2 linked regions of the Homo sapiens genome follow. The protein of the gene in region 1 purifies or fractionates together with the protein of each later gene. This does not show direct contact. Each region holds a gene or a part of one and is shown in the gene's direction. Other genes may lie near its edges.

The links. The genes of interacting proteins can lie anywhere in the genome.
Region 2: the proteins of ZP3 (region 1) and ZP4 purify together in Homo sapiens (co-immunoprecipitation; one study listed by IntAct). This does not show direct contact.

The regions. Positions count from the first base shown.
Region 1 is NC_000007.14:76,427,950-76,431,449, forward strand, and holds part of ZP3 (zona pellucida sperm-binding protein 3 isoform 1 precursor), read left to right. Parts: intron 1-1,565; coding exon 1,566-1,684; intron 1,685-3,500. UniProt on the Homo sapiens protein: Component of the zona pellucida, an extracellular matrix surrounding oocytes which mediates sperm binding, induction of the acrosome reaction and prevents post-fertilization polyspermy.
Region 2 is NC_000001.11:237,884,914-237,887,922, reverse strand, and holds part of ZP4 (zona pellucida sperm-binding protein 4 preproprotein), read left to right. Parts: intron 1-361; coding exon 362-549; intron 550-1,054; coding exon 1,055-1,152; intron 1,153-2,036; coding exon 2,037-2,167; intron 2,168-2,342; coding exon 2,343-2,532; intron 2,533-2,607; coding exon 2,608-2,758; intron 2,759-3,009. UniProt on the Homo sapiens protein: Component of the zona pellucida, an extracellular matrix surrounding oocytes which mediates sperm binding, induction of the acrosome reaction and prevents post-fertilization polyspermy.

The DNA.
Region 1 (3,500 bases):
AGGCATGAGCCACTGCACCCAGCCCTCAAGTAGTTTTTAAATAAGCTCCCTGAGATGAGAGGTGGGGATAGTGAGCTTAGAATAGGTGGTTGGGGGTTGAGTCATGGTGGCTCACACCTGTAATCCAGCACTTTGGGAGGCTGAGGCAGGTGGATCACCTGAGGCCAGGAGTTCGAGACCAGCCTGGCTAACATGGCGAAACCCTGTCTCTATTTAAAAAAAAAAAAAAAAGGCACGGTGGCACGTGCCTGTAATTCCAGCTACTCAGAGGCTGAAGCAGAGAATTGCTTGAACCTGGGAGGCGGAGGTTGCAGTGAGCCGAGTTCGTGCCACTGCACTCCAGCCTGGGTGACAGAGCAAGACTGCATCTCAAAAAAACAAAAGGTGGTTAGGAAGTGACTAAAGTAGGGGTTTCCAGTGCTGGCTCTATGCTAATCACCTGGAAAGGTTGTAAAAATACTGATTCTCAAGAGAATCTCATACCTTCACTCTACTGGGGTAGGGCCTAGCGTCACATTTTTCTAATATTCTAGCAAAATCTTCGAACTTAGGTGTTTGCTATAAAACTCTCTCCCAGGCAGGCCCTGCCTTCTGCAGCCCTATTGGACGATGCAAATTTCCCCAGTAGTACTCACCTGTGCTCTTCCTGCCTCAGGCAACCTCTGAATCAGTCTCCCCCACCTTATGTGAAATGGGCTTGAATAGGTTAGAAGCTGATGTGGGTTGTTGTGTTTTTTGTTTGTTTTTGTTTTTGAGAGTTTTGCTCTTGTTGCCCAGGCTAGAATGCAATGGCACGATCTCCGCTCACTGCAACCTCTGCCTCCCGGGTTCAAGCGATTCTTCTGCCTCAGTCTCCCGAGTAGCTGGGATTACAGGCACGTGCCACCACACTCAGCTAATTTTTTTTTTTTAAGTAGAGATGGGGTTTCACCATGTTGGTCAGGCTGGTCTCAAACTCCTGACCTCAGATGATCTGCCCTCCTCAGCCTCCCAAAGTGCTGGGATTACGGGCGTGAGCCACAGCGCCCAGCCAGAAGCTGATAAGTGTTAACAGCTGGGCACTTCCTGACTGCTTCCTGGCGGCTATCTTGGCCCTGGGCCTCTCCTGAAAGAGGAAACTGTATGTACTGGGGGGCATGGAGGGGGAGTGTCAGAAGGGATGTGTCATGTGCCCTGATGCCTCTATTGCTTGGGTGTTACATGGTATCTGCCATGTGGTTGATCCAGTCTGCCTGTGGTGGTGTCAATATGTGGTGTCAGGTAAAGATTCCGAGGTACAAAGACAGTACCTGTCCTGCCTCTTTCCTGACCAGTGGCAGAGCCTGTGTTCTCTTTTGTAGAGATGGGGTCTTGCTATGTTTCCCAGGCCAGTCTCAAACTCCTGGCCTCAAGCAATCCTTGGCCTCCCAAAGTGCTGGGGTTACAGGCATGAGTCACTGCACCTGGCCTTGACCCTGTGGTCTTTCTGTCCCCTTGTGGGCTGCCCTCCCTGAGCACTCAGGTATGGCTTGGGAGTACCCGGGCAGGTGATGGCCGGCAGCATTAACTTCTCACCTTTCCTCCAGGTAACTGACGATGCCCTGGTGTACAGCACCTTCCTGCTCCATGACCCCCGCCCCGTGGGAAACCTGTCCATCGTGAGGACTAACCGCGCAGAGATTCCCATCGAGTGCCGCTACCCCAGGTCGGTGTGGGACTGACTCATGGCCCCTGGTGCAAAAGCCCCTTGGGTGTGGCTGCAGGCAAGTGGGCTGGCTATGGGCTACAGCTTGCAGCATGGCTATTAGAACTACCTACCGAAGCATTTGCAGCTGTGGTTACTGTACTGCGTGGGATTGTGGGGCCTGCTGAGTCTAGTTCGAGCCCCAGAAGAGTATCAGGAGCCCAACTGCAGCTTAGCGGAAGCTTCAGAGCTGCTCAGCCCTGGTGGTGGTACTATGCCAGCCTCGGCCCTTAGGGTTCAGAAATGGCCTTCCAATAGTGCTAGGCTGGGGCCAGGTGCAGTGGCTCATCCTGTAATCCTAGCACTTTGGGAGGCTGACAGGTGGATCGCTTGAGGTCAAGGAGTTCAAGACCAGTCTGGCCTACATGGTGAAACCCCATCTCTACTAAAAACACAGAAATTAGCCGGGTGTCTATAATCCCAGCTACTTGGGAGGCTGAGGCAGGAGAATTGCTTGAACCCAGGAGGCAGAGGCTGCAGTGAGCCGAGATTGCACTGCTGTACTCCATTCTGGGCAACAAAGCGATACTCCATCGCAAAAAATAATAATAAAATAGTGCTAGGCTGCGTTCTAGAATCTGACCTGGGCGGTGGTGGCCTACTCTTCTGTGGTCCTCAAGCCCCTGGCATCAAGCACGTGCCTGTGAACTCAGGCCCTGAAGTGGGAGGAGAAACTATGGCTCCCAAGGACAACACTGGGTCCTGTGCTGGCCTCAGCATGGGGTGCAGGGGACTTTGTCCCTGCCCTTGAACCAGTCTGGGAGTGGGTATAAGATGATGCGGCCAGGTATGGTGGCTCACGCCTGTAATACCAGCCCTTTGGGAGGCCAAGGTGGGCAGCTCACGAGGTAAGGAGTTCAGGACCAGCCTGGCCAACATGGTGAAACCCATCTCTACTAAAAACACAAAAAAATTAGCCGAGTGTGGTAGCGCGTGCCTGTAATCTCAGCTACTCAGGAGGCTGAGGCAGGAGAATCATTTGAACCCAGGATGCAGAGGTTGCAGTGAGCTGAGATGGCACCATTGCACTCCAGCCTGGGCAACAGAGCAAGACTCCATCTCAAAAAGAAAATGCTAGTGTGAAGTGGGTAGGGAGCTGATACCAGTCAGGACATCATGAGGGATGAGCCATGCCCCTGGGAGGGGTCATGGTAGGGGTTATCCTAGAACAGGATCCTGGAGTGGGGGACCTTGAGGCTGAGATGGCCTGGGCAGAGCCATGTGGCCACACACCCAACGGGAGGGTAGTGTGCCCTTAGTAGGTGACATGCAGCCTGGGGGCTGGAGCCCAGGGACTGGGGTAATGAGGGAGCCAGACAGATGGGCTCACCAGCCTCACCACAGGTGCCCCTCCTGGAATGGGTGAGGACTGAATCTCCACCCAGGGTCACCTGGTGGCTGGTGCTGAAGACAAATGGGAACTAGTGAGAACCAGCTGGGAGGCTGGAAAACTGGGATTCAATGAGGCCTGACCCATGGTTGCAGGGACCGTAGAGGCTGACTCGCAGGAGCTAAGAGCAGTTGGAGGAGCTTGGTGCCTATGTGGGTAGGGGAGATGGAGGAGGATAGAGGAGTCAAGGGCAGGCTGCCCAGTCGGCATGAGGGACTGAAGCTGTCCTGTGACCGTGGAAGTCTGACTTCAGTCTCTGGGCCTGACCCCTGAGGATGGTGGCTCACCTGGTCCATTGGCTGTAGGTAGTATTAGAGAGGCTGGTTGTAGGCTGGGATGCTTTAACCTGGCTCCAGATACCTGAGTCTGGTTATCAATAGATGCATC
Region 2 (3,009 bases), on another chromosome or scaffold:
CAAAGGCTGCAATTACTTCTCTACCAACCTAATAATCGCACACGCTATTCCAAGATCTTAATCTTAACTGACAAGCAAAATGAGGTAGGAACTACTATCCCCCTCTTAACACATGAAACTGAAGCAAGGAGGTGCAATACTTGCCTGAGGTCACACAATAAGTCAGGGAGGCAAGACTCAACCCCAGATCATTTAGAGCCTGGGTTAAACTGTGGTTGGTTGATCTTGCACTGAGGTTGTCACTGGGAAGTTGTCACCAGCTTCTCAGTGGGATTAAAAGTAACTAAGTGGTTAGACTTTCATCTGGTTCTCCCCACAATGGGAGAGATGACCTGCCTTCAGCACAGCTGCTCTGTTTCAGTGACCTTGCATTGTACCCGAGAGGGCCATTTCTCTATTGCTGTGTCTCGGAACGTGACCTCGCCACCACTGCTCTTGGATTCTGTGCGCTTGGCCCTTAGGAATGACAGTGCGTGTAACCCTGTGATGGCAACACAAGCTTTTGTTCTGTTCCAGTTTCCATTTACTTCCTGTGGCACCACAAGACAGGTGAGCAGTTGGGCTTTGTTCCTGGCTCTGGAAGTTGGGTGGGAAGGTTGTAGTGACTAGTGGGGGAGAGCTGAAATATGTTGGCCGTGAACGATACTTGTGACTACTACTTGGAGTTTGGGAGAGTCCCTAGGGCAGGAGAATGCCTCATCACTGAAAAAGTTAATCTCTTCTGGGTGTTCAGCTAAGACCATCACAGCTGTGATCTAGCTAAGGGGCTGTCATTTACCGTGCTATAGAGAAGAAACCAGCAGGGATGCTGACTGGAATTGGTAGTGCTTCAGCTGCCTCTCCTAGGTGCTCAAATTCCTTCTTATTCCTTTGTCCTGAGATAAGGCGAAGTGATAACTTGCCAGGATGTCACTGCTATGTGTTCTTACCTCTGCTGAAGTAATAGGAAATATACCATACAACAGGGTAGCATTGCTGAGGGCTTAGACCAGATGCAAGTCAAGCAGCATAACACTAACAGAAATGATCAAGACTTCTCCATCTATTCCTGTAGATCACTGGAGACCGAGCAGTATATGAAAATGAACTGGTGGCAACTAGGGATGTGAAAAATGGGAGCCGTGGCTCTGTCACTCGTGACAGCATCTTCAGGTAAGGGCTTGGCCAGAATGACTTCCCATCTGCCATAAGGTGGGCATTCTCAGGTAAGCCCTGAATCCACAAATGAGCATTCCTCAGCAATAGGAGAAAACCTGTCTGCTACCTTGGTTCACCAATTGCACTGCCCATTACTTGATTAGGTCCATCTGTGTTGCTGTCTCCAACCCGACCTAAGCCTCAAGCTCACCTGGAGTTCTGCTATTTCACTTAACTAGATTTTTTTCTCATTTTGGCCTTCTCCATTCTACATTTCAGCCTACATTTCTCCATTCTACATCTGGCCTTCTCCACTGTCCATGCTGTAGCCAAAAGAATTCCTTTAAAACCTTAAGTCAGTCAAATCACACACCTTAAAGCCATGGACAAAAAAAAAAAATCTTTAAGATGAACATCAGGACCCTGCATAAAACAGCTCCTACTTCATCTCCAGCCTGTTCACTTCTAACATTCTCAGTCCCTTACTCACTATTCCCCGATTGCAGCCTGGTTCTTCTATGGAATTCTCAAAGGGCCTCAAGCACTTCCTTGCCTCCAGGCTTTGCTCTATATTGGGTGACGCTTTCCCTGTACCTCAAGTTTTTCTTTCACCTTCATATCAAGGGTACCTCTAAGGTCTTCCCTGATCTTCTCTATGGCAAGCATCTGTTTCTCATGATGCATCTTTATTTCTGTGTGCTTATCTCCAACTCAAACATTGGTCCTACTTGTATATTGGTCTCCCCAACTAAAATACAGCTCCCAGCAGGGCAGGAACCACATCCATCACACTTATAAACTTGTCTAGCACTTAATGCTTTCCTTGAGTTAAAAAGAAAGGATGTGTAACTGACACCCACTTCCCACAACCAACTAGCTAAAATCTTGTTTCTCTGCAGGCTCCATGTCAGCTGCAGCTACTCAGTAAGTAGCAACTCTCTCCCAATCAATGTCCAGGTTTTCACTCTCCCACCACCCTTTCCTGAGACCCAGCCTGGACCCCTCACTCTGGAACTTCAGATTGCCAAAGGTATGACCCCCTTGGCTGGAGTATCTGGCCTATAGTCTAAATCCAGTCTTCTGGGGCATGAAGACCCTAAGTTAGTAACAAGACACTTAAGGGGCTTGGGGCTATTTAAAGGGGTGACAGTCCCTCAAGTCACTGAGAGATTACTACTTCAAATCCTTATTTCTGCCTCTTGCAGATAAAAACTATGGCTCTTACTACGGTGTTGGTGACTACCCAGTGGTGAAGTTGCTTCGGGATCCCATTTACGTGGAGGTCTCCATCCTTCACAGAACAGACCCCTACCTGGGGCTGCTCCTACAACAGTGTTGGGCAACACCCAGCACTGACCCCCTGAGTCAGCCACAGTGGCCCATCCTGGTAAAGGGGTAAGTGGTTCTTTCATACACCTGTGCTGAAATTCTCAAAGAAGCCCATCCTGACTGCTGGGTCTCTTGGTCTAGCTGCCCCTACATTGGAGACAACTATCAGACCCAGCTGATCCCTGTCCAGAAAGCCTTGGATCTTCCATTTCCCTCTCACCACCAGCGCTTCAGCATCTTCACCTTCAGCTTTGTGAACCCTACAGTGGAGAAACAGGCCCTCAGGGGACCGGTAGGATGTTCCCTTCCATGACACTCACCAGGGCTCTGAACCTCCCCAACTTACAACTGTTTCCATGTCCTACTACTCTGCAGCCAAGGAAGCCCTTTAATGCTGGCTATTGGTACTGACTCAGAGCAACCCTTGTTACTAATTACATGAGTGACATCTGTCAACTGGACTCCAGTTCCTTAGTGCCATTGTGATATCAACTTGGACCATATCAATTTTCTGATAACTTCCTGAACCTCTTCCTGGGGAGG